Homo sapiens: one gene and its partner. The protein of the gene in region 1 purifies or fractionates together with the protein of each later gene. This does not show direct contact. Each region holds a gene or a part of one and is shown on either strand. Other genes may lie near its edges.

Region 1 (3,500 bases):
CTTGCAAGAGAGAAAGTTCTATTTTGTTTAAGATGCTGTTATGTGTGGTTTTCTGCCACATTCAGGCAAATGTAATCCTAATAGATACAGATATCTAATGGACTTTGCACACTTGACGTATCCAAAATTGTAACTCTGATTTCCACCCCTCCCCACCCACCAACCTGCTCCTCCCACCACCTTCCCCATCTCTGGAAATGCCAATTCCATCCCTCTAGTTGCTCAGGCCACAGGACCTAGAGTCGCCTTTAACTCCTCTCTTTCACACGTCCCCACCCAATCATGCATCCAATCCTGTCGACTCTACCTTCAAAACAGATCCAGAATCTGACCATTGCTCAGCACCCCCACTGCCTGCCCCGTGGTCCCAGCCAGCATCACCTCTCGCTGTGAACACTGCAAAGGCCTTCCTGGAGATCTCCTTCCTTCCCCCTCAGCCCCTAGTGTCTGCCCTCAATCCAGGGGGATCACGCTGGGGATCCTGTTCAACCTAAGTCAGATCCTGTCACTTCTCTGTCCAAAACCCTGCAGAGTTCCCCGTCTCCGTCACAGAAGAAGCCAAAGTCCTCCCCAGTGGACTGCCAGGACCTCGACCGTCTGCCTCTGAGGCCTCCGTACCTGCCCCTCTCCTCACTCCACTCTAGTCACCAGGCTCCACGCCCTTCTCTGAGCAGGTCTGGCAGGGTCCTGCCTCAAGGCCTTTGCCCTTGCAGCTCACCCTGCCCGGTCGCCCTTTTCCCAGGTAGACACATGGCTCCCTCCCTACCCTCTTTTGGGTCTTTGCTTCAATGTCTTCCCATTCTACTGTCCTCTATCTTGGCACTCCTACTCCTAATGCCACATCATACGGGTGTGACACTATCTGGCTCTTGTCTCCCACCGACTAGAAGGGAAACTCCTTGAGGGCAGGTGCTAGGGCAGAGCACAAGGCCTGCTACAACTACATTTGTGCCTGGAAGGCAGTGGGAGCAAAGAGCCTGGCTCTATGGGCTCTGGAAAAAGGGGCGGGGCAGTCACCAGCTTCTCCTGGATTTGCTGCTTCTGGACTAGGCGGATCTGCTCCAGCTGCTCCTGGGTCATGCCCTTCCAGCGGTCAGGGACCACGCGGTGGGGCCCGAAGGAGCTGGCTGCCTGCTGCGGGTTCTCGGAGAGCAGGTCCCCACGCAGGAGGTTGGTGATCTCGGCCAAGTTGTCCTCTTGTTCTTGCTTTTTCTCTTGCTTTTTCCTTTCCACTGACTCGATGGCCTAAGCAGGTGAAGACATTAAAGAAGATGGTCCGAGTGACCCCAGGGGCATTCTGACACCCAGGCCAGCAAATCTCACTGGGGGCCCTCGAGGGGAGGATATGCTAAGGGCAGCAGGAGTCGGGTGGAGGGGAGACTTGTCAGGCACGGATGTGGGTGGGTCCTTGAACCCCTGGCTGCCTGCGCACTGCTGGGCGGGTGGGCTGGACTCGGGGGATCACCACCTGTTGGGTGTATGCATAAGAGCTCCGGGTCTTGCACCAACTTACCAAGGCAGGGAACTCCCTCCTTGGATTAGGCCGACACCCCGCGTGGGCCTGGTCCCACCCAAGGCAGGGCTCTATGCCCCTGGCAACCCTTGGACATCTGTGGGCTGCAAAGAACGCTCAACAGAGTGATTGACAACAGTGGTAGAAAATGCACTGTCACTTCAGTGGTCCTGAGCTGCAGCCCCCAGTACAAAGTAATTCCAGGTCTCATTTCTGTTTGATTCCCTGGGGGTTCCCTGGCTATGTGGCCTATACCAAGTCACCTCCCCTCTCTGGGCTGCAGTCATTTCTCTGTAAAGTCAGGAGATGGCTTAGGAGACATGTACTTGGGTTTACAGTTGTCCTCAGTAACACATGGACAGGGCAGTTTGCAAGGAGCCGGCCTCCCACATGTGCTCACCAGAGGCCAGCTTGATTGAGTCACACAGTACAAGCTTTGTAGTTAGACAGGCCCAACTTCAATACCGGACTTGCCACTGAGTACTCCCTAAGGAAGTCAGCTCATCCTTCCAAGCCCCTACACCCGTTTTTTTTTGTTTGTTTGTTTGTTTGTTTTTTTGAGACGGAGTCTCGCTCTGTCACCCAGGCTGGAGTGCAGTGGCACAATCTCGGCTCACTGCAACCTCTGCCTCCCAGGTTCAAGTGATTCAACACTGTTCTTACTTTGGGAGGCCAAAGTGGGCAAATCACAAGGTCAGGAGTTCAAGACCAGCCTGGCCAACATGGTGAAACCCCATCTTTACTAAAAATAGAAAAATTAGCTGGGCGTGGTGGTAGAGGCCTGTAATCCCAGCTACTTGGGAGGCTGAGGCAGGAGAATGGTGTGAACCCGGGAGGCAGAGCTTGTAGTGAGCCAAGATCGCGCCACTACACACTCCAGGCTGGGCAAGAGAACAAGACTCCACCTCAAAAAAAAAAAAAAAAAAGAAAAAAGAAATGTGAGCAGAGGTGGCAGTACTGCTCCTGGGAGGAAGCCTGCGGGGACTAGCCACATTCCTTCCCTCCTCCTGCAGGGATCCTCTGGCTGGCGGTCGCTCCATCCCAGGACCTGGGCTCCAAAGTGAGGATGCCAAGGAACAGGCCTCACAGCCTGTCCATGGCGGGCAGGGAGCATGCATGGAACATCAACTTTCTGTTTAAGCCACTGAGACTGCTGCTTCTTATCCCAGCAAGGGTTAGCACATTCTGACCGACACAGGAGGGTGTTGTCGCTTCCTCATTCTGCAGATGATCAAATGGACGCAGTGGGTGGCCTGCCCAAGGCTGCAGGGCAGAGCCTGGTCTGCACCCCGTGTGGTCGGGCTCCAGAGCCTGCGTGCCACACCCTGATGCCACAATGCCTCTCTGACGAAATGAGCCCCGACCCAAGAACTGGAGGCCCTCACGTGTGTCCTTCCTGTTGAACTGGACCGGCCTGCTTGGGCTTTGGATTAACATCCCAGGTTAATTAAAAAGCCTAGTTGTAGTTAGTAGCAGAGCTGCAGAAGCCAGAGGGCGGCTTTTCCCAGTGCAGGAGTGTTTGCAATGGTGCTGCCTCGTGGCATCCACGTGAGGAGCCGGGGGTCTGAGAAAACCAGGCAGGCTGTGGATGCCCATTAAACATCTTCTAGAATATATGAATGAATAAATTGATGAATGAGACAATAGGGTTTAGCAAAAGCCACTCCAATGCCCAGCAGGAAGGGCTCAATAAACATTGGTTGAATTGATGAATGAATGAGTGAATTATCATCATCATCATCACCATCGCTTCCATAAATGAATGAGCAGATCACCAGCCAACAGTGGACTAATTGTCAAGGGCCCCACATCCTGCCATTCACTTGCAGTGGGGACTGGAGCAAACAGCCTCCCCTCTTTGGTCGCCCTCTGTAAAATGAAGGGCAGGGATGGATGATCTCTAAGACCTTTGCAGCTCACTGGGTGGTGAGCTCGGACTTCAGGTGTCTTGCTTTGCCTTTTGGTCCTCCCCAGCCCCCGCAGTTGG
Region 2 (3,500 bases), on another chromosome or scaffold:
AAAAATTGGTCCAGCCCTCAGAATCACCTTGAAACTTTTAAAAATACAGATTTTCCACATTTTCTTTATCTAGTCTATCACTGATGGGCATTTGGGTTGGTTGTGGCACATATGCACCATGGAATAATATGCAGCCATAAAAAGGAATGAGTTCATGTCATTTGCAGGGACATGAATGACGCTGGAAGCCATCATTCTCAGCAAACTAACATAGGAACAGAAAACCAAACACCGCATGTTCTCACTCATAAGTGGGAGATGAACAATGAGAACACATGGTCACAGGGGGGGGAACATCACACACAGAGAGGGGAACATCACACACCGGGGCCTGTCAGGGGGTGGGGGCCAAGGGAAGGGAGAGCATTAGGACAAATACCTAATGCATGTGAGCCTTAAAACCTAGATGAAAGGTTGATAGGTACAGCAAACCACCATGGCACATGTATACCTATGTAACAAACCTGCACATTCTGCATATGTATCCCAGAACTGAAAGTAAAATAAAATAAAATTTTTAAAAAACACAGATTTTCATACCCCTGCTTTAGTAAGGGTGAGTTTTGATTTAAGAATCTCTATACTTTTTTAAGTTCCTCAGGTGATTTTGATGATATGTCAAGTTTGGGGAGCTAGCTGACTTTGTCTAGGGTCCTTAGAAATTCTAACAATCTGTAAGTTATTGTGATGAAATAATACTTTTGAGAACATAACTAAAACCTTCTCAAAGTTGGATTCCCCCTGGATAGGATCAAGGAAACACGTAGCCCCATTTGCCCTGGCAGCCATATCAGAATCATATGGGAAGCCAGACCGCACACAAAGGTGAAACTTAGGGGGGAGTAGGGTCAAGGAAAACACAAAGAAAGAGAACTGGAGCCCTGACTGCACCTCGCCTGAACCCCACTCTGCCTCAGTATTTTTTACTCACATAAGCCAAGAAATACCCTTTATTGTGTAGGCCATTTTGAGTTGGGTTTTCTGTTTCTTGCAACAAAAAGTATTCTCCACACCCTTCCCCACATCAAAATTAAACCAGTGTGGAAGTACATGCTAGCATGTATCACCCCCCTTCTAGTGAGATTAAAATGTGGGTAGGATTGCCATATTTCTGATAAAATACTTTCATTCTTAAATTCAACTTTAAGAATTTCCTGACAAAATAAATGATTTCAGCCGGGCATGGTGGCTAGCGCCTATAATCCCAGCACTTTGGGAAGCTGAGGCGGGAGGATCACTTGAGCTCAGGGGTTTGAGGCCAGCCTGAACAACATGGAGAAACCTCATCTCTACAAAAAATATAAAAATTAACTGTGAGTGCTGGTATGTGTCTGTAGTCCCAGCTTCTTGTGGGGTTAAGCGGAGAGGATCTCTTCAGCCTGGGAAGTTGAGGCTGCAGGGAGCCATGCACTCCAGCCTGAGTGATAAAGTGAGACCCTCTCTGGCCTGGGTGATAAAGTAAGACCTTGTCTCAAAAAATAAAAATAAACGATTTTGATTTTTTCAACCTTTACTCAGGAAATTTTCTCCTTGTTAATGACATAAAAACCAAAGAACTGGGCCCAAAGTGACAAGCAAATCACTGACAGTATAAGACAGAATATTTTTATAGAGGAATCCAAGAATGTCCAGCATAACAGAAGTGTAGCTACTTTCCTTTTCGTCTTTTTCAGGTTTCCTCAACACCTTCAAAAGTACACATGCTCTTACTTAATGTGAATCAGTAGATCAGTGAGGAAAGACTTATTTTCAAAGTTACCAGGAATCTTCATGTGTTATTCGCTGATAGTACATAAATTTAAAGGAGACCTTGGATATTGCTTACAAACTTGGATCTCAAGATCTGGACAATAAATGCGCCATTGTATCCATGGTAACAGTGGCTCAACTATTCAATGCACAGAATGGTAATTACATTTCCTCCTTTCATTCATTTCTCACTGTTTCCAGTAACCTTGAGGTCAGGCATGACCTGAGGGCTAATGACCAAAAGTGAAACTTCAAATTGTCTAATCTGTCATTATCTAGGAAAGACTTACATTTCTTTGCACTGAATTTCAGTGCTATCCTAAATCAGAAGTGTCCTAATATAAAAGTTAACCATCTTATTTTTAGAATGATAATGTCTCCATTTTCTCAGCTAATGTGATTAGAGATAAGACTTAAATTAGAGACCAACAAAGTAACCATCAGCAAAGAGTACATATATCTGGCATTTCTGAATTAATCCAATAAGGTGTGATGGATACGTGTTCTACCATTTATGAAAGAAGTCCATAGATGAAGTGCTAAGGACACTCAGATGTGCACCAAGATGTGTTCTGTCTCCACAGAAGCATCTTAACCTGTCTGCAAACTCTTTAAGCTTCTTTCTCTCTACCCCATCCTTATAGCAAAGGACTAGTGCTTGGAAAACAGACAAACTCTTAGGAACATAAACATTGGAGTGAAGTAAATTGGAAAAGGAGTAGGAGCCTAAGATTCACAGAAAAATGAAATACTGCACCAGACTTAAGGGATCCTGTAGTCTGATCGCTCAGCTCATTTTCCAGAACTTTCCTGTCTATCACAAAGCTCTGCTCCAAATAAGAAAACTTTAGGATCCAAATAAACCTTCTAAAAGTCCTTCTTTCTCCTGTTCTCCTTCTAAACTTAAAGTTGCAACATGGTCACATGGGCACAGATCACCATGTCTTTTTTCTTAATGTTTCCAATACTTTATTCCTTTCAATTCTGTAAGTTACCCCAGGGCTGCCAGCTCTTGAGAAATTTCTGTAGCTTTTTCAAGTGTGTCTTCACATACAAAATGAAAATAACATCGTCAGTCAATTTTATCTGATAAGGTATACTGAACACCTGTTATTTTTGCATCCCAGCCTCTGTTCACCATTCTCCCAATAATTACCCCCATTTCTCTCTGGACTCCACCCCTTCATACATGATCTCAAAGACTGAGTATACAGCCCAAGCCTAAGCCATGGGAACACATCATGACCCGGGATTCAGTGGTTGGTTCTCCAATGAGTTTATGACCTAAGTAGAGACCCTGAGATGCAACTGAAACTTTTGCTGGGAATAGCTAAGATAAAAACTCTTTTTCTTTCCCAGTGGATGTGATCTGATAGGAGGTGGCTCCAGAGCCACTGACAGCCGCTTTACATCAAAGGAGAACATGTTTAAGAATGGAGTCATCTCAGAGCCAGGAGACGGAAAAAAGACAAGATTGGCCTGACATAGTTTGAGCCTCCATTTTATATTAGGTTGAACCAAATGAAATTGCCAATATTTGACTATTTCTGCATAGGAAAAAAAATCAATCTCAAATGGATCAACCTAATTATCTGTATCTTTTCAACTATGTATTTATTTTCTTTGAGACAGGGTCTCACTCTGTCGCTGAGGCTGGAGTGCAGTGGCATGATCACAGCTCACTGTAGCCTCGACCTCCTGGGCTCAAGCGATCATCTCACCTCAGCCTCCCAAGTAGCTGGGACCACAAG

The links. Proteins that work in one complex are often made in the same cells at the same time.
Region 2: the proteins of RIBC2 (region 1) and LRP2 purify together in Homo sapiens (affinity purification with mass spectrometry; 2 studies listed by BioGRID and IntAct, with this or other methods). This does not show direct contact.

The regions. Positions count from the first base shown.
Region 1 is NC_000022.11:45,423,693-45,427,192, reverse strand, and holds part of RIBC2 (RIB43A-like with coiled-coils protein 2), read right to left. Parts: intron 1,246-3,500; coding exon 1,018-1,245; intron 1-1,017. UniProt on the Homo sapiens protein: Microtubule inner protein (MIP) part of the dynein-decorated doublet microtubules (DMTs) in cilia axoneme, which is required for motile cilia beating.
Region 2 is NC_000002.12:169,352,535-169,356,034, forward strand, and holds part of LRP2 (low-density lipoprotein receptor-related protein 2 precursor), read right to left. Parts: intron 1-3,500. UniProt on the Homo sapiens protein: Multiligand endocytic receptor. Acts together with CUBN to mediate endocytosis of high-density lipoproteins. Mediates receptor-mediated uptake of polybasic drugs such as aprotinin, aminoglycosides and polymyxin B.